Regions from separate parts of the Homo sapiens genome. Here regions 1, 2 and 3 are each linked to region 4. The links come from fine-mapping of genetic effects on gene expression. A gene starts in region 4. Each other region holds a variant in brackets. All regions are shown on one strand. Distances are from middle to middle.

Region 1 (5,155 bases), 47 kb before region 4:
TTTCTCCATTATCTTAGAGTTTCCAGCATTGCTGTTGCAATATTGATGCCATTCTAACTTTGAATTCTTTTTTATCTCTCTTTGTAAAAAAAACATAAAATAAAATTGGTAGAGTTCCCTTATTGTCCCTGGTGTCCTGAGATTTCATCATGCTGCACCATTGTGCAGTGAATGAGGTGGACCCTTCAACCAAGAAATTCATGTGCTTCAGTTCTGCATAATTTTTGTAATTATTTTGTTGATGAATTCCTCTCCTCTATTTTATCTGTTTTCTCTTTGTAAAATTCCTATTATTTTGGATTTTAGGTTTCCTGACGTTGTGCTCTAATTTTCTTATCTTTTTTCTCTCATTTTTCATCCTTTTTCTCTTTTTTCCACTTTCTGAGAAATTATTCAGCTTTACATTTCAACCATTCTTTCAGGTTTTCCCAACAACTCTTTGTTTTTGTTTTTACTGATCTTTTTGTTACAATTATTCTATTCTTGCTTCCTGTATGGAATCTCCTATTCTCTGAGGTTTTGTTTTGTTTTTGTTTTTGTTTTCAGATAGAGTCCCTTCTGTTGCCCAGGCTGGAGTACAGTGGCGCGATCTCGGCTCTCTGCAACCTCCACTGCCCGGGTTCAAGCGATTCTCCTGCCTCAGCCTCACAAGTAGCTAGGAATACAGGCACACGCCACCATGCCCAGCTAATTTTTGTGTTTTTAGTAGAGACGCGGTTTCGCCATGTTGGCCAAGCTGGTCTTGAACTCCTGACCTCAGGTAATCTGCCTGCCTCAGCCTCCCAAAATGCTGGGATTACAGGCATGAGCCACCATGACCGGCCTTCTCTGAGGTTTTAAGTGATAGTTTTTGTAAAGTTATCTTATCCCTGAGTTGTTTGGTGTTTTATGTTGTTTACTACATACAAGAAGCTTTGCTCTGATGCCTGATAATTGCAGATTGTCTGTACATACTTAAGAGTGAAGCTTTACAAGTCGATTAAAACCTGGAATATTTTATATTAAATAAAAAAGGAAATCTTGTCACATGCTATACAACAAGGATGCAACTTGAGGACATTATGCTAAGTGAAATAAGCCAGTCACAGAAGGGCAAATATTGTATGAGTCCACTTATGCAAGAGATCTGAAGTGGTCAAACTCATAGAAACAGAAGTGTGGTGGTTTCCAGGGAAGAGGGGGAAATGGGAGTTGTTCAATAAGCATACAGTTTCAGGTTTGCAGGATGAAAATGTTCTGGAGATCTGTCACACAGCAATGTGAATATTCTGAAATACTTACTGAACTCTACACTTAAAAATGGTTAAGATGAAAAATTTCATGTGTTTTTTTACCACAATTAAATTTGTTTACATTTATTAAAAAGTTGATTAGAAGTTTTGAGCACAAAGGTGGGGCTGTTTTGCCATGGGCTCCAGTTCCAAGCGATGAGGACAGCTATTTCCCTAAGGAATCCCTAGCGTTAATGTCATTAGGTCTCTCCTCTTGGAAAGCCATGGGCTGCTGAGATTCCCCAGAGAATGATCATCCGAATTCCTCTCCTATAGGGTATGGGACTGGCTGCTGGCTTTCTGTGAGGTTTGTAGGGAAAGACAGTGATTCAGTGATTTCAGAATTGAGTATACAAATTTTACCTTCTTCCCTGCCTTCAGTATGGGCCCCTGTCCTCAATTGTGCTTGGAATCCTTTCTACGTTACCCCTTCCATGTTACATTTCCTGGGAATATAGCTTCAATCTTCTTCCATGATGATGGAAGAGCAAGCCGTCATACAACTCTGTAGAATCGGGACGCAGGCCTAGGGAGCTTAACTGCTTCTGAAAGAAATCAGACTACTTTCTTTGCACTTACAGAGGTATCCGCTCTAATTAAGCCTTAGGGATTCAACTCAGTGTAAATCAATTTGTTTCTCAACTTTCTCCACTGCTTAGTGAGGATTCAGTCATGTCAGATCTGCTTAATCAATTACCACTTTCCCATCTACTTATCAATTTTCAAAATTTTATTCATTTTCTCTCCCATTCTCTTGTCCTCAAGTGTTTATGCCTTAAAAAAAAAAAAAAAAAAAAAGTTTAGGCCGGGC[G/A]CAGGGGCTCATGCCTGTAATCCCAGCACTTTGGGAGGTTGAGGCAGGTGGTTCATTTGAGGTCAGGAGTTTGCGACCAGCCTGGCCAACATGGAGAAACCCTGCCTCTACTAAAAACACAAAAACAATTAGCTGAGCCTGGTGGTACACGCCTATAATCTTAGCTACTTGGGAGGCTGGTGGGAGGCAGGTGGGAGGACCGCTTAAACCTGGGAGGTGAAGGTTGCAGTAAGCCAAGATTGCACCACTGTACTCCAGCCTGGGTGACAGAGCAAGACTCCGTCTCAAAAAAAAAAAAAGTTTAGATTAGAGGGGCTTAGGGTTCGACAAGAGGGTGATAGCTATTGCCTATATTCATCCACCATCTTTACCCAGAAAAGTTGGCTTGTTTTCTATAATTTCAGACTTAATAACTAATTTCTTGGTTGGAGGTGATGTAGTGGAAAGTATCAGAAATTTAGAATCAGTCAACGTGAGCCAGATTCTGGATCTGCCATTTTCTTGTGTGACCACAAGTTAACTAGCTTCTCATATCAGTTTCTCTGTTTATAAAATGAAGATGTTAACACATAGGCTTCTTCTGAGGATAAAGTGAAAAAAACATATGAAAGTCATATGTAAAATAACATATGTAAATCTCATGTAAAACTTAATGCTTGCTTAATAAATACTCTTCTTTCCGTTCCAATATTAGTTGTTCAATTTACCTTCCACTAGCAACTGTAACATTCTGGTAATAACCTCATTCTGGGCTCAGTTTCTACAATATTATTCAAATCACACTAGCCATCCTCTACTGGCTGTACTTGCCACCTTGAGATCTGCTGTCCGATTACGACATTCAGTCTCAATTGGGTGCTGTGTCATTTTGTTGGAATAAGTGCAAATTTTAAATTTTAAAAAAATTCAAAAATGAATGCATTACTTTTGAGTCATTTAATCAAATCTACTTTTACCTTACTATTGATATTTCCAAAATTTCCCTTAAAAAGTAAAATGGACTTTGGTTAGATATCAAGATCTGGACAATTGTGTAGAACTTTAACCATCTGAGCCCAGAGTTTTGTTCATACCCTTGGAGATGCAAAGCAGCTGGTTACTGTCCTCATGTTATTACATTTTCTCCTAACCCACTCAGTGATAACATACCAAACCATCTGCAGCAAAAACATGCCAAGGTTTTACAACAAACTGGGCACTAAGCATTGCTCCATATAGACCATCAAGAAATTCACAAATCAGTGGCTTAAAGACTTTATTAAATTTACAAATATTTCTTGAGTACCTACTATGTTCCACTAATTGTCATAGGTATTTGGGATACACGAGTCAAAGAAACACATTTAAATCAAGAATCCTTGCATTCATAGAGCTTATATTTTAGTGAAAGAGATAGACAATAAACACAATAAGTAAGTTATAAAGTGTGTGTTTTTTAAATAGAGCAGGGAAAGAGGATCAGAACTGCTAGAAGAGGTATTGCAATTAAAATAGACAAGATTTCTTATGTACTCCAGAGATCACCACTAAATCAGTGATAGTTGTTTGGTCACAAGTAACAAACAACTTTAAACAGAACATGAATATATTAGGTAGATATCAGGGGACATACAAAATTGATAGCAATACCAGAGAAACAAGTCGAAAAAAGGTTAGGAATCAGGGTAGCTCCAAAGCAAGTGGAATTAATCAACATTCTCCACACCTACCATCACTGGAACGAATAATCTCCTAGCATCTCGTACCCTTTCTGCATTGCTCCAATCAAGACTGGAAGTTCCAGGAGCATCTGATTAACCAAGCTGGAGTCACTTGCCTGCTTAGTGGGTAGACAATCCCAAAAAGAAAATTTCCAGAGGGAGAGTTAATTCTTCAAAAGGAAATTAGTGTGTGTGCCAAAGTAAGGGAAATGGGTGATGGGCAACCAAAACAGTACATGTTCACTATTGCAAGTGCCAGCTCCAGAAAATCTACATAGAAGGGGTGTAGAGAAGCAATCTGATTGAAAAGAGGCAGTAGGGTACGGTTCTTAATCTGCATTTTGATAGCAATCACACTGTTTTGACTTAGATTGTTTATTTATGTTGGTAGTTTTGAAGAGTTGCTTAAGATTATTGAGCCGGGTGCAGTGGCTCATACCTGTAATCCCAGCACTTTGGGAGGCCAAGGCAGGTGGAAAACTGGAGGTCAGGAGTTCGAGACCAGCCTGGCCAACATGGTGAAACCCCACCTCTAATAAAAATACAAAATTTAGCCGGGCGTGGTGGTGCACGCCTGTAATCCCAGCTGTTCGGGAGGCTGAGGCAGGAGAATCACTTGAACCTGGGAGGCAGAGGTTGCAGTGAGCTGAGATCATGCCATTGCACTCCAGCCTGCGCAACAAGTGAAACTGGGTCTCAAAAAAAGAGATTATTAGCTAGATTAAGCCTCTACAAGCGGTGCCTGGGGCCCTCTACTGATCACAGCCCCAGAGACACCTTCTGACTGCTATTGCAGCTTGACTGAACTTATTCTAGAATCCCCAGTAGGATGAACCAGAAGAGACCACCATGTGGACTTTAGTACACTACAATGTTCTTTTAGTTCACTACAATGGCCTTTAGTAGTGAACAACAAAGCGCATCCTAGACTAAATTAAACAGTCATCAGCCCATTGGACTACTCTTTGTGTATGTTTAATTATCCAGGGAAGAATATTTCACCACTTTTCAAAAGGGGATTTGGAACATATGCTGCTATAGGAACAGTAGCATAGATTTGAATCCCCCCAAATCGTCACATGAAAACAGACAAAACAAATATACAGCAAAACCAAAAGCCACAGACAATAGTTACAACAAAACTAAGTCTTTTCTCTGATCATATTGGCAGTGGTTGTATTAGTATTAGTATTCTGAGATGATTCTGTGTATAATAAAGCAAATTAGTAATGCTAGAATATTCTAATTTTCTCATCCCTCATGTTGTTATCAGTGGAAAGTATCCATACGGGGCTGCAGCAACCTCAATTCTTGGCTTCTCAGAACAAAGAATTCACCTGAGGGACATAAGGCAGAAGGAGAGACTGAGGCAA
Region 2 (5,155 bases), 34 kb before region 4:
TTTCTGGTTGTTTTAAAATATTTTTTCCAGTATATTAAAGTTTTTGTAGCAGATGGGTAATCTCGTTAGCTCAATTTACTATTTTCTAATCCCAGAAATCCTCTCTAGGTTTTTTCCAGATATGATACTTGTATTATTTTAAGTTTTTTAACAAAAATAAATACATAATTTTTAATAAAACAGAAAAATCCAATTCAAACTAACTAAATCTACAAAGGAAGCTTGCTTCAAGTAACTGAAAAGTCCAGAAATAATGTGAACTGATATAGTTCAAGCGCTGCCTCACCCTGTTTCTCTGTAATTTTCCCATCATGTGCTGGCTTTGTCCTCCAGTTAACTTTTCTCACGGAGGCAAGATCATTTGCAGCAGCAATATAAGGCCATATGCATTCTTGTTCCCTCTTGGAGACAGAGAAGTTCCACAATCATTGATCAAAAGTGTTGAGCTACTTGGTATTTGGACCACCTCAGAACCAGTCCTTGCGGTTGGAGAAACACAAGCAATAATTGGCTAAAGCCTGGGTCACCTGAACCAATCGTTGGGGCAGATGACATAGAACCTCTATTACCCCATTGGCTTAGGTCCCACTTCTGGGGCTCACCTAAACCATATGGCAGCTACACAAGAGAAGAAGTGTCCAATGAATGTTAGACAACCATAATATCTACTTTACTCTATTTAAGTTACATATCCCCCCGGCCGGGCGCGGTGGCTCACGCCTGTAATCTCAGCACTTTGGGAGGCGGAGGTGGGCGGATCACAAAGTCAGGAGATCAAGACCATCCTGGCTAACACGGTGAAACCCCGTCTCTACTAAAAAATACAAAAAAAATTAGCCGGGCGTGGTGGCGGGCGCCTGTAGTCCCAGCTACTTGGGAGGCTGAGGCAGGAGAATGGCGTGAACCCGGGAGGCAGAGCTTGCAGTGAGCCGAGATGGCGCCGCTGCACTCCAGCCTGGGCAAGAGCGAGACTGTCTCAAAAAAAAAAAGTTACATAACCCCCAACCTTTACCTATGCAAGTTGCTGTTTGAACCCAAGGATAGAACTTTACGTTTCTGCTAAATTTAGAGTTAGCTTTGCACAGTTCCACAACAGAGTTGAAGATTATCACTTGCTTTGTTTTTGTATATCGGTTCCTATTCCTCATTTTCTACTTTATATAAAGAATTAAATTTCCATCTAGTTTTTTTATTACTATGTCAAGCACAAAAGACCCAATCAAATACTTATCAAATATGCAGTTATATTTGAAATCACCTAGATATAAAAAGTAAGCTGTGTGATAGTGTCATCAAGTGTGTTTAAAGAGAACCTGGGGAGCACATCCAAAACACAAACTATCACTCTTAAAAAACAGCAGAAACTGAAGCATAAGATACTAAGTTGATTAATAGCTTAAAAAAATACCTCATATATATCAGGATTCTTGGAACAGAGAAAATAAACTATGGTTTCATACATGAGCCACAAATTAGAAATCCTAAAGTTAAGCAGTATAAATAATACATGCATTGGATGGCAATAGGGCTGCTTGTTACATGGACAACTGTATGTATTGTGCTGCAAGATGAGTAACAGCAGAGATTTATTTATTTATTTCATGGTGATTAAAGATGTTCCCTAGCTGAGATGAGTTTACCAGCTAGTAAGAAAAATTTAAGATGAGCATTTTGCACTGCTGCACTTTTTCTAAAACGTAGTTTTTTATTACTCTAATCTTCCATAATCTATAGTGATGCAGATGGCTGTCTAATATTTTGTTCACAGAGTATAAATCAGACATCAGTATTTACCCTTAAGAGACAAATGTTTTATTTTGCTATGTGAAGTGTTTTATAAATTTCACTGAAAGTGATACCCCAATGTAAATTGCTATTAAATGATATTATCATTAATAATATCATTTAGCCGGGCGTGGTGGCAGGCGCCTGTAGTCCCAGCTACTCGGGAGCCTGAGGCAGGAGAATGGCGTGAACCCAGGAGGCAGAGCTTGCAGTGAGCCGAGATATTATTAATAATATCATTAAATGATATTATCATTTAATATCTATCAAAATTAATATAAATGTAGAAGCTACATACTGGCATTTTATTATAGTCAATATTTATATTCTTTGAAGACAGCTATTTCTGGCTAAAATAATATGTAAAATAGTCCATAATTTGAGACATCAACATAGAGAAAAATGAATTGATTGAAATGAATCAAAATAGCTTTATAGAATATAAAGATGTCTGTGTATGTGAGGGGTGTGTGTGTGTGTGTGTGTGTGTGTGTGTGTGTGTCCAGGAATCAATTTCTATGTCAGTAACTACATTATCTACACAAGCCAACTTCTCTTATGTCTTCATGATATTGGGTCAATAACGGCTTCTCACCTTGTGAGATTTGGGCAATAGAGTCCCTTTCAGGCAAAATTCCACTAGTGAGTTTGCCTTATAGGAAATCAATAAGTTCCTTCCTACGTATTTTCTCTTCCATAGCAACAGGAATAAGAGACAAAATAGGCCTACTTAATGTGCAAAATATGTGCCATGCTTCTAAGTGCTGCTAACTCCAAAAGAGAAGCCGTTTTTGTTTCAGTACTATTAAGTCTTCTAACATTTTCTTGCCCTACTCTATATGGCAGGTTATATTCTTCATATAATTGCCAATTATCCAGGGTGAATATAAACATAACTCAATTGTTTAGCATAAAGATAAAGAGCAAATACAAATACCTCTGACAGCCTAACTCTGTCACTGACCAGTCACTTAATTTTATGAGCTTCAGCATATTCATTTAAGTGTATTAGGTATATACATAAGATGAAAGCAATAATAATAATACCTTTCTGCCAGGTTCAGTATTGCAAACTGACCTAAGCCAAACTGTCTATTTAGCAATTATCGGGGGTTTTTTGGTAAATGTTGAAAGCCTCCTTGATAGATTCACAATCAGAAGTAGGTGGGGGCATCTTCCACTACCCCACAATTTCCTTCCTGGTGGCATATTATAATGAAAACAAGTCTTAGACAAAATTATACCAAAATGCACCAATAATTACTAGCAAGCAAACAGACAAAAAA[G/A]CCACATAGTTTATTCTTGTAAGTTTGAGAAAGGCCTTGTCTCTGTGTTCAAGCCCTCCAAAAATCACCTTGCATGAAAGGCTCTTCATACATAGGGCCTCATTATAAGTACCTGGTCATCCTAAAGAGTGGCCAGAGAGGCCCCTGTGGAAGATACCAATGAATATGCTCTTTCATTTATCCACTCACTTACATAGATCATGGAAGAGACTTTAAACATGAGACCAAAAATTTAAGTCCAAAATTACAAAATGAGAGGATTTACTTTGTCATTCACATACACTCTGCCATAGTCTAGAAAGAGTCAAAATTTTAGTTTCAGAAAACTACAAGAATGGAACAGATTTTCATAGCTGAGCCCAGAACTACAAAAAGATACCATATTGTACATAAAATTCTAACTTCTGTTGAAATGGTTAGCATGTTTGCAAATATCTTGATGTATGATGTGTCAGATAATATGACTTGTTTTTCTGATCACCATAAATACTGAGCATAGAAAAATATACACAAAAAAACATATATAGCATTAGGAAAAACTGGGAGGGTTGCTTTTGGTTATAACTTCTAGACTGGCAGTCTTACTTGTCACATTCAATTTGTAATCAGACTTCAATGGCTTAAGCAACCAAATCTATCCTTCCATTTGGCCCCAACCCCAATAAGAAAGAGACCCACATCTAAATTTTAAAAAGATAAGAATATTCAGCACCCTCTAGAAAACACTGGAACTTACTGGATAGAGTCAGTTGTTTGAATGGCAAGATAGCTGAGTGTTCTAAAATTCAAGAAACAATTGACTCACTGCCCTCCATACTGTGATGAAACATGTAGTAGTTACCTTTCAGGCATTGGGCCAAAATGAAAACTGTCCAGAAGAATTCCTTTTGTTACTGAGCTATGCCATAACATCTCAAGAAGAATCATTGAACACAGAATTGAACAACTTTATATCCCTTTACTTAACCCAAACCTACTCCCTGAATTATCCTCAAGTATAATGAAATGAGTAAATGAGATGTTACATGTAAAATACTCAGCACAATGTTTAGTACCCACACAAAAAAACTACCCACAGCAGGAGTGAAGTGGACTAAGCCTAGCAGGAAACTTTTATGATGGCTATTCATCCCTGGAACCCAACTGAGCTCAGGAGAGGCAACAGAGTCCTCTATAAACCACAAGGACATAGGACCAAACCAAGCACTAGACCACAAAGTGAAGTCACTTGGGATAATGGATGCACTGGGTGCCAGTTAGCTTTTATCACAATGTTGAAAAAGTTTGGTTATAAAGATTATAAATCATAGATCTTAAAATGCAAATGAAGAAGAATAGCTTTACAGTGGATTACAGAATGGGTACATAAAAAATCCCCTTCTGTTTCTTCAGTAGATGGCAAGTCTGGGCTCTATTTTCCCATATTCTAAGTGAAAGTCTCTGAAAACCATGGACCTACTGAAAGAGCTCCCAATGAGGCAGTGAGCAAATATTTTATTTGGCATTACCATAAGCTTAAAACCATGCTAAGGGTGATTTAATAGCAAAATACATATGACTTTTTTTCTGCTTTCAAAGAGTTTATAAATAAAATGAGGAGGCAAGGAAAACACAAGTGAAGTAATAGTAAAAAAACTAATATTGTATATATAAACATATATATAATAAGTTTTGTACAAAAACCATAAATGCCTTAGAAGATCATGAAGAAAGAAACCAAAGAGGACAGAGTTCCATGAGAAGTCTCAGTTAAGAGGCAAGATTTCAGCATGAACCTTAAATAATGAGTAGGATTTTTATGGATCAAAGAAAAGACATTCCCAGTGAGAGAGCTGGCACAGAAGTTTGACTAAATATACAAAGACTACCCTATCACAACAGAGGTTAAATGCAAGGAAGAAGTGAGGGCTGAAATTAGAAAGAAGGGACTCCAAATATAAAAGGCCTTAAAAACACTAAAATAAATATGAATTTGTGTGGGAAGAAGTAGGAAGCCATTGAAGATGTCTAGCAGGAGCCAATTTAGTTGTGAGGCACAATATTAATGGGTATATGGTAAATTGAAAAATAGCCCACCAAAGAAA
Region 3 (5,155 bases), 72 kb before region 4:
AGTTTTTATAAGGGCTACATTTATGTGTAGTAATGGTATTGTGAGTATCTTTCTTTAAAGTTCTTTATGTTTTTGAGAAGCACATTGAACTACTTAGAGAAAAGTGTCTATGATATCAAGAAAGTTGGGGTACAAGGGTATAGACAAAATTGTCCATGAGTGGATAATAGTTAAAAATGAATTGTCAAAAAAACTACAAATATTAGCTGGGCATGGTGGTAGACTCCTGCAGGTAAGTCCCAGCTACTTGGGTGTCTGAGGTGAGAGGACCACTTGGGCCTAGGAGGTTGAGGCTGTACAGAGCCATGATGGCAACACTGTACTCCAGCCTGGGTAACAGAGCAAGACCCTGTCTCAAAAAAAAAAAAAAAAAAAAAAAGAATTGTGCGTATATAGAGGTTCATGTACTATACATACACAGGCACCCCTGTGTAGTTTTGGAATTTTTTATAACAAAAAGTTTTTTAAATATTTTATGTAAAACATTTAAAATTATACCTGGAACATAGTAAATACCATATAATAGCTATGATTATTACAGCAAAATTCCATTTTTATATGGATCTGTATCCATATAAAATAGATCTGTATATGGATCTACTTTAATGCTATTTACATATAGCCCCTTTTTTATTTCTAGGACATAATTAAAAATAAGCAATAGAGATTTATTCTTTACATCTATAGTTGGCTTAGAAGAAAAGACAACTGAAGTCATACAAGGAACTGTTATCAAAGAAGATGGAAGGCTCATCCATCATTTCGATCACGTTGAGTTGAAGAATCTGAGTACAGTATAATAGAGAATAAAATGTAGTCAGGTAATAAAAATTAATAATATTTCACATGTATTGAGGAGATATTATGTGTGAGGTACAGTCACAAGTGGTTTCACATTTGTTACCTCATTTAATCCTCTTATCCACCCAACCTATGAAGTAGGCATCATAATAATTAGCTCCTTTTTTTTTTTTTTTTTTTTTTTGAGACAGAGTCTTGCTCTGTCGCCCAGGCTGGAGTGCAGTGACATGATCTCGGCTCACTGCAACTTTCACCACCTCCCCGGTTCAAGCAATTCTCCTCCCTCAGCCTCCCGAGTAAGTGGGATTACAGGCGCCTGCCACCACACCCAGCTAATTTTTGTATTTTTAATAGAGATGGGGTTTCACCATCTTGGCCAGGCTGGTCTTGAACTCCTGACCTTGTGATCCACCTGCCTTGGCATCCCAGAGTGCTGGGATTTCAGGCGTGAGAAAACATTGGCCAAGAGAGGTTAAGTAGCTAAAACCTGCTACATAAGACTGACACTAATGCTATATTTTTCTTTCCCAAACATCACTGGCTCAGGAACTGAGAGGTAACAAATCTTTACCAGGCAGACAAAAAAATAACATGCCCATCATCCCTCAACCAGCTAGTTACTGTAGGAGCCAACACATCCAAGCCAACAGTCTGACTCCAGAGCCCTGACCCTCAACCACATCACTATAGAAGACCTGGGTTCAAGTCCTGACTCCACTAAGGTTTTTAATCTTGTGCAAATTGCCCAACTTTTAGGTCCTCCTCAATCCTTTCACTTGCTTTGTTCTTCCTGGGTGTTTTGCCTGAAGCTATAGATGGTGCCCTTTCAAAGGCCTCAGCATCTCTGGGTTCCAGCAACAACCACAACGAGTCAGGAAAAATATCTGCAAACTCAGGATCACCAAATAACTGTCGTTAGGTACTGCCAGGGATTGCTTGTCAACACATGGCTAAAGCAGTTGCTGTCGACCCTACCTGCACACTAGAATCACCAAGGGAGCTTTTAAAAATCACCAATGCCCAATCCTACTCCCAAACCAATTAAATCAGAATCTCTGGGGATGGAGTCTGGGCACTAGAATTTTTTTTTTTAAGTTACCCAGGTGATTCTGTTGAATCCAGTGTTGACAGCTGCTGAGCTAAAAGATGAGAAAACCCATAGATAGGCACGGAGATTTAATAGAAGCCAAAAACCTAAATATTCAAGTAAATCTTTCAAAATGATGCTTCCCCATATTACTATACTCTATATCTGCTTATTTTTAAAATCCTAATTCCAAAATAAGTATACTATTCACAAATTTACAAGGTATGCATACATGTTTATGCACATATACACAAACACAAATACACATATGGTAAGTATGCTTGTGTAAGTGCATTATTTTTATACCACTACAGCCATGTATGCTATAGATCTGGTTTGGGGATAAAATTAGCATCAAAATATCAGTAGTATTTCCATTCTACCACCATACACACACACACACACACACACACACACACACAC[AGG/A]CGCGCGAACCACTTCCTGCTAGTTCTCTCTAAGGCTGGGATCTCACCTTTGCATCTTTCTAAAATTGAGGAACACAGGAAGTCATTTCAGCTGCTGACAAATGAGAATAACTTGACTCTAGGTATAGTCATATACTTTAATCAAGGAAGTAAATGCCTTAAATTTCTGCTGGTTTCCTATTGTCATTAAAATTACAACATCTTAATTTTTATAGCAACCACTGTTGGATTTTTATATAGATGTGTATTTAATAATTTTTCCTGTGTCACACAAAGAATGTAATGTGGACAACTGAAAGGGAAAAAGGCAATGGTATTCAGAGGTTTAAAATAAATTAAACATTCCTTACAGTTTTTTCTGGATGACTTCCCTCCATAAATTATATCTTTTGCACTATGCCATTTGTTTCCCCCAACTATTTCTATATGATGTAATAATTATATGCTCCATTGAACTCAAAAGCGTTCGTGAAAGGTTAGGTGAACAGAACAAATATAAGAAAATGTAAAGAAAACGCTGCAGTTTGGTCTTTGTTGGTACATAAAAAAAAATTTTAAGTGAACAGAAATTTCATGGAAAAGACAGAAGACACCATCATTCTGTTCAGGTTACATTCTACACAAAGCTCAACGTTAAGAAGACATTTAAGCCACTTAAACATGGTGTCTCCTTATTACTCATGTCTCCTTTTCCTTGCATAAGCAATGAAGAAGCACACAATGATATTAGGAAAATGTTTAAATATCATTCTTGTAGCACATAAGAACAAATGGATAATTTACACTATAAAAATTAAAGATAGGCCGGGCGCGGTGGCTCACGCCTGTAATCCCAGCACTTTGGGAGGCCGAGGCGGGTGGATCATGAGGTCAGGAGACCGAGACCATCCTGGCTAACAAGGTGAAACCCCGTCTCTACTAAAAATACAAAAAATTAGCCGGGCGCGGTGGCGGGCGCCTGTAGTCCCAGCTACTCGGGAGGCTGAGGCAGGAGAATGGCGTGAACCCGGGAAGCGGAGCTTGCAGTGAGCCGAGATTGCGCCACTGCAGTCCGCAGTCCGGCCTGGGCGACAGAGCGAGACTCCGTCTCAAAAAAATAAAATAAAATAAATAAAATTAAAGATAAAAATAAACAGGATTTAAGCTGGGCATGGTGGTGTGCACCTGTAAGTCCCAGCTGTGCAGGAGGCTGAGGCAGGAGGATTGCTTGAACCCAGTAGTTCAAGGCTGCAGTGAGTTATGATCATATCTGTGAATAGCCACTGTACTCCAGCCTGGGCAACATAGAAAGACCCTGTCTCTAAAAAAAAATGAAATACAATAAACAGGATTGGATTATCTGTCCTCATGGACCTATGAGCAATTCAAATCTCAACACATCCTTTACAACATGTCCAGTTTGTCTTAGTATCTTAGATGTTTAAATCTGAAAAAGCTAATAAAGCTTACTAGTGCAAAAGCCAGTAGGTGTCAAGAAAACCGCAACAACCTATGTACAGATTCAGCTTTCAGATAGCTCTTCCACCTCCTCCATTAGTAAGGTAAGGAATGGATGCTGCTGTGTACCTCCCTGCACTCTGCACATACTGTGCTTTAGGAACCACTTTTCAAGGTTGCCCTTGGTATTCTTTTTACTACATCAAAACTTGGCATTTGAAAGGAGGGGCAGATGAGAAAGTAGGAAAAGAAAATATACTATGATTTGCCCTGGACCTTAGCTCCCCTATGAATAGCCCAGTATACTCCAAAAGCATTTATGCTGAATTTCTAAATACATTCCTAATAGCATAAGAACTAAAATTATCTCATTGCCAAACAAAAGGCTTCTGCATTGAAATGTGACAGCTCGCTGCTCAGGCAGCTTGTTGCCAGAAGGATACACACAATTTCCAGCAGAAAATTGGTTTCAGGATTTCACCCAATAGTCCAGAAATAAAATAAACTTCCCTAGCTCTTTGCAACAGGGCAAGGCCATTGGGATTCACCCCTGCTCCATTCAACAGAGAGCCCTGAATTGCCTTCCAATGTAAGAATTCAAACAAACTAAACCAGATCATGTCTCAAATGCTATAGACCAGCATTGCATTCTGAGGCATTTCTATTTCTTCAGCGATTTTATTCACAGAATTGCTCATGACTTCAGACAGTATTGCTTAATTAAGCCCCAGTAGAACTGAATTTAAGCTTTCACCTGAGAAAATATATTCCACCATTACTCAAGAATGCAGTTTGCCACTACTGGACATGACATGAATCGTTTAGCTCTACTAAATAGAAGTTTCCCAAAAGTTCCAAGCCATTTTTTGCCTTCATAAAAGCACAACACATGTCCTTGATAGTTAGCATGTGAATATGAATAGAGAAATTCATGATTTGGTGGCATTTTCAAAAATGGACTTTCAAAATTATTTTCGTTTTTTAAAATTGCACTACCAGATGCAAATTTAGTGATCATTAAGCCTACTCTTCTCATTTTACTGATTAGAAAGGAGACCCGGAAACACCAACTGATTGGTTCAAATCAGGCAGCCATCTAAGGTAGAACCAAGACCAAAATCCAGCTTTCCTGCTTCCTTATGTCTCTTTTCAAAGGAACAGAAAAAGGACATGAAAAACAGAAGGTCTAGAGAATGCTGATTCTCTCATGAAAGACACGGCCTCCCAGGTGACTGGCTCCTATAAGCCTGGCAAAAGCTGCCAGGGGAACAGTCAGTTGTCCATCTGAACGGAAGGAGGCAACTTAAAAGATGAAAGAATCATGAAAGACCCCTGCTCCAGCCCCAGCCCCCCATAAAACTGTTAAGTTTTTTAAGTTTTATAGGCATATTTGGCTTTAAAGAAA
Region 4 (5,155 bases):
GGTGACAGAGCAAGGCTCTGTCTCAAAAACAAAAAATGCCTGAATGAACACTTCAGAGAGAACCTGCTAGCATGTATATCCCAGAGCAAGTTCTCTCCCATTTCTGGGATTTGAAGGGGCCCCAGCCTAAAAATCATAAGAAAACTAAAGTACTTGCATGATTTTAAGTAAATTATGGAATGCAGGCCGGGCACGGTGGCTCACACCTGTAATCCCTGCACTTTGGGAGGATGAGGCGGGCAGATCACCTAAGGTCAGGAGTTCGAGACCAGCCCGGCCAACATGGTGAAACCCCAACTCTACTAAAACTACAAAAATTAGCTGGGCGTGGTGGCACATGCCTGTAGTCCCAGCTACTTGGGAGGCTGAGGCAGGAGAATGGCTTGAACCTGGGAGGTAGAGGTTATAGTGAGCACCACTGCACTCCAGCCTGCCTGGGCAATAGAGGGAGACTTCGTCCCCAAAAAAAAAAAGGAAGAAAGAAAGGAAAGAAAGAAAGAAAATCCATTTGACCCATTTGCTGGGAACATTTTCCTAGAAGTGGAAAAGGAAAAATACACATAACACTGGACCAAAAGGAGAAAAAGTAATCATAGCACACTATTGGGACCTGCTATAAACAATATTTACTGTTTACATTATTATCGGTTTTTCACCTTTAGACCAAACCTGCTAAGTCTTAAAAAAGGCCAGGTGCAGTAGTTCACGGCTGTAATCCCAACACTTTGGGAAGATGAGGTGGGCAGATCACTTGAAGTCAGGAGTTCGAGATCAGCCTGGCCAACATAGTGAAACGCCATCTCTACTAAAAATACAAAAATTAGTGGAGGCAGGCGCCTGTAATCCCAGCTACTCCAGAGGCTGAGGAACCAGAATGGCTGGAACACAGGAGGTGGAGGTTGCAGTGAGCCAAGATCGCACCACTGCACTCCAGCCTGGGTGACAGAGTGAGACTCTGTCTCAAAAAAAATAAAAATAAAAACATTGAAAATTTAAATATGGTTACAAAAAAACAGAAATGCTCAACCCTGTCAATGTAAGAATAAAGGCAGGGCCATCATATCAGAAAGCAAAAAAGGCATAAAGAAAAACTTTATTTTTCTAAGTGAAGCACTAGGGAGAAATAGAAGATTCACTCACTGCATTTGTTTTTATTTCTTTTGGGAGATCTTTTTCTTTTCTTGTTTTTTGTTTGTTTGTTTGTTTTGAGATGGAGTCTAGCTCTGTCACCTACGCTGGAGTGCAGTGGCGCGATCTTGGCTCACTGCAACCTCCACCTCCCGGGTTCAAGCGATTCTCCTGCCCCAGCCTCCTGAGTAGCTGGGACTACAGGCATCAGCCACCATGCCCGACTAATTTTTGTATTTTTAGTAGAGATGGGGTTTCACCATGTTGACCAGGCTGGTCTCAAACTCCTGACCTCGTGATCCGCTCCCCCCTCGGCCTCTCGAAGTCTTTTTTTTTTTTTAGACAGCGCCTCGCTCTGTTGCCCAGGCTGGAGAACAATGGCGTGATCTTGGCTCCCTGCAACCTCCGCCTCCTGGGCTCAAGTGATCCTCCCACCTCAGCCTCCCCAGTAGCTGAGACTACAGGTGGATGCCATCACGCCCAGCTAATTTTTGTATTTTTAGTAGAGACTCCTGACCTCAAGTGATCCGCCCTCCTTCGCCTCCCAAAGTGCTGGGATTACAGGCGTGAGCCACCGTGCCGGGCAGGGAGATCATTTTCTGCACCCCAACAATATCAAAGAAAAACATGCAATCAATTTAAACTCAGGAAATCTTACTTCAGCTCTATGCCCTCATTAGTACTAATACCATATTTCTTTATTCGAATGTCTACTGGTAATTTATCTTTAAAATCAAAGAAACTTCTCCCTGAACCAGTATTTTTAGAAGAAAAAAACATAAAGATGTAAATTTTGTTTGGTAAGAACTAGTTTCTATGAATCATCTAATGAATTAGTACTTCAATGACTTGCCAATATTTGTCCTTAACTCCCTTTCATAGGTTGGAGAAAGTATGGCTAACATAGATAATTTTACTGAGGTCAATTATGAATAATGAGGGTTGTTCATCTCTTCTACCCACGATTAAGATAAAGAAATGCCTAGAGAAAGACAGTCCTTTCAAGGACTTTGAAACGAGCAGCTTTTAGCCAAGACATACTAACGTGATGGCGCATTTCCTTGCATCAGTATTGTGTTATAACAGACTTGGCCATCTTATCAGAAAGCAAAAAGTATATAGCAAAACTTTACTTTTGTAAGTAAGGCATTGGGAAGAAACAGAAGATTCATTGACTGCATTTGTTTATATTGATTTTCTCAAAATCAGTTGTTTATTTTCAATGACGACGCCTCTACCGCCACCAGGTCAACAAAAACGTACTTGCTTTTGCATTTCCGGGACTCTAGCATTTCAGAGCAGGAATTAAAGGCCTTGCCAAGGCTTTTAAGCGATTGATGGAAACAAAACAAAACACAGAAGGATAAATTTTGAATTTGCTAAGACAAGAATTCGCACCAAGGCAGACATAAGACATGAGGATGTCTTCCTGACTTGCGTCCTTGGCTCGAATCGTTCTTATTAGCCCTTTTCAAAAGGCAGCTGTGACCTCCATTTCTGGCTAATCAGGCCACTTTTGTTCCCCCCGAGGCGTGGGAGGACAACAGTTAAGCCCTAACAGCCTGCGAAGCAGCTCCTCGACGAACGGCGGCGTCCCCGTCGCCTGGGCAGTGGGTGTGGGAGGTGACAGCCTAGTCCTGAGCCTCTGGAGCGGGCCTATACTGCACCGCCGTACGTGAATTTCAGGAGCGCGCAATGCCGCCACCTGGGAAGGGTGCAGCGAGGCTGACCTGAGTTTGCCCGCCGGGGTGGACGGCTCTCCGGGGCCCCCGGGGTCCCTGGGGCCCCTCCGTGCGCCGCCCCCTCCCGCGCAGCCCTGCACCCTGGCCCGTCGCGCCCGGTTCCGCGCCCTTCTAGGGGACCATGGCGACGGTACAGGCACGGACCTGCACCGCAAAACCCAAAGCAAAAGCAACTTGCCATGGCGGAGGGGAGACGCGCCCTCAGCGGCCGCAGAAAGCCCACAACCAGCGGAACGCAGGCGATGGGGAGAGGAGCGAGCAGGCAGGTTTTGGTTTCGTTTTTTGTTCCAGCTCCCTTGGAGGCTACGAAGAAAAGGGCGGTCCTTCCACCCGATCCGGCTGTTCTGCGACCTCGTGGCCTCTGAGTGGGAGCTCGGACTCAGGAGTGCTGTTGCCAGCGCCTGCCCAGACGCCCTCCGTAGTTTTGCAACTTGTGGAAGCACTCTGGAGAGAGGCCGAGAGGATTCCTCGACAGGAAATTTGGGAATTCTCTGGGTGATGCATCAGTGATTGCAATTTTGTTTTTACCCGTTTTGCTAAGCAGCAGCAACAACGGCAGAGTTGATTTAAAAAAAGAAAAAACGCAAAAAGGGAAAACACATAGTAGGTGGTGGCCGCTTCCTGTGTTGATACTGGGGGGCTACGCTTTTCCTAACATCAATCATCTCGTAGTTGCAGAGAGCCCTAGATGTCATGATAGTTTTGAATCGCATGCATTATCATGTAAGGGAGTTAAATATCTTGCATGCATGCTCTCTTCTGTGTTTATATATTCGATGCCATGAAATTGAAGGGCATGTGGCTAAAACCTTTTTACTACATGAAACTTTACAACACTTTTGAAAACATTTCAATTTGGTTGATGCGCACTGTAATATTTCTCCAGATAACTGTCCAAAATTTTCCATGGAGAAGGCTTTTATCCTCATTAGTTGCTGGCCTCAAACTAACCATCTAGGATATTAAACTTCTGCCAGAATTTTACATCCAGCTACCTTTACTTTTTAGAACGTATTCTCTATCATGTTATTGATATCAATTTCTACTTCACACAGATGGTTTTTTACAACAGCAAATCAAGTTTTTCTAACATCAGTTTTAAAAAGCCCTGCACTCAGTGAAATCTGGATGTCTTTCCTACGCCCTTATTATCTGTCCAGACTTCTTCCCCTTCCCCCACCGCTCACCTGGGCCTTTTCCTCTGCACAACCTACCCCAGTTCCCCAACCCCCACCTCAACCCCCAACGCCGTGTTGGTCACCTTCCCAGCCCAGACCAGGAGCCCTCTTGGACCTCTGCCGGGTGCTAAGGACACAGGATGAGAGCGCCAGGTCCCTGCCAGCAGAGAGCTCACCACCTTGTCCATGCCTTAGCACAGGAACCCCGAATGGCGCCTGTGGGGACACAGGGAATCTCTGGACAAACTTCAAAATCAAATCAATGAATGCATGAAGAACAAAGGTAGATGGCTAGCAGATATGAAGAAACCCAATCCCACTCCTAAGAAATGTAAATTGAAATAATAAGATACCATTTTTCACAACTAGATCTGCAAAACCAGAAAGTGTTAGCCTGAATGTAAGCATCAGAGTTGCTGCAAGCATAGATGGATGCAAATACTTCTAAAGATTTTTATCAAAATGTAAAGTGCAAAAAAATGTAAAATGCACATATTCTTAGTCTCAGCAATTCTACTTTTAGAACTGAACTTGAAGTTATAGTGCGCAAATGGCACTAAGATATTGTATAGAAATTTTAGTTGTACATTGCTTGAAATACAGGTAGTAATAATTTTTTTATAAACTGGGATCCACCTAGTTTATCATTGGATGGAGCTATTTGTTATACGGCTGATGATATATCAGTAAGGCACAAGGCTATGAAGATTTTAAAACAGAATGAGGTAGGGGGAAGTGGCTCCCGCCTGTATTCCCAGAACTTTGGGAGGCCAAGGTGGGCGGATCATTTTGAGCTCAGGAATTCAAGACCAGCTTGAGCAACATGGTGAAACCCGTCTGTACTAAAAATACAAAAATTAGCCGGGCGTGGTGGCACACACCTGTAATCTCAGCTACTCGGGAGGCTGAGGCTAGAGAATCGCTTGAACCCGGGAGGCAGAGTGAGCCAAGATCACACCACTGCACTCCAGCCTGGGCGAGAGAACAAGACTCTATCTCAAGAAGGAAAAAAAAAAAAAACAGCATGAGGTAGATCTGTATGTAATTCCCCAATTTATATTTTATCTCCAGATTTATATATCTAAGTGCCCACTTGAATGTCAAACA

Alleles and levels. Alleles are on the strand shown, and positions count from the first base shown. SD is a standard deviation of normalised expression in the study named. Not every link is listed here.
For the expression in naive CD4 T cells of the gene that starts at base 3,187 in region 4, allele G in region 1 goes with a higher level than allele A (large effect, 1.1 SD a copy in Schmiedel 2018).
With allele A in place of AGG in region 3, the expression in CD4 T cells of the gene that starts at base 3,187 in region 4 is lower (large effect, 0.78 SD a copy in Kasela 2017).

The links. PIP is the estimated chance that this variant, and not a neighbour inherited with it, causes the effect.
Region 1: its variant is the best candidate, but not a certain one, in a credible set for the expression of RBM43 in naive CD4 T cells (Schmiedel 2018, PIP 0.88).
Region 2: its variant is the best candidate, but not a certain one, in a credible set for the expression of RBM43 in monocytes (TOPMed, PIP 0.58).
Region 3: its variant is the best candidate, but not a certain one, in a credible set for the expression of RBM43 in CD4 T cells (Kasela 2017, PIP 0.82).

Annotation. Positions count from the first base shown.
Region 1 is chr2:151,212,010-151,217,164 of GRCh38, forward strand. No RefSeq gene overlaps it. Among named protein-coding and RNA genes, the nearest start is that of RBM43, 47 kb to the right of the region's middle. The variant G/A (reference allele first, on the strand shown) is at 2,083.
Region 2 is chr2:151,225,120-151,230,274 of GRCh38, forward strand. No RefSeq gene overlaps it. Among named protein-coding and RNA genes, the nearest start is that of RBM43, 34 kb to the right of the region's middle. The variant G/A (reference allele first, on the strand shown) is at 3,072.
Region 3 is chr2:151,186,971-151,192,125 of GRCh38, forward strand. No RefSeq gene overlaps it. Among named protein-coding and RNA genes, the nearest start is that of RBM43, 72 kb to the right of the region's middle. The variant AGG/A (reference allele first, on the strand shown) is at 2,312.
Region 4 is chr2:151,258,677-151,263,831 of GRCh38, forward strand. It overlaps RBM43 (RNA binding motif protein 43), which reads right to left and starts at 3,187. Exons shown (of 4, transcript NM_198557.3): 1 at 3,049-3,187. The coding sequence starts at 3,051. RefSeq lists a silencer at 2,731-3,000 and an enhancer at 3,041-3,270.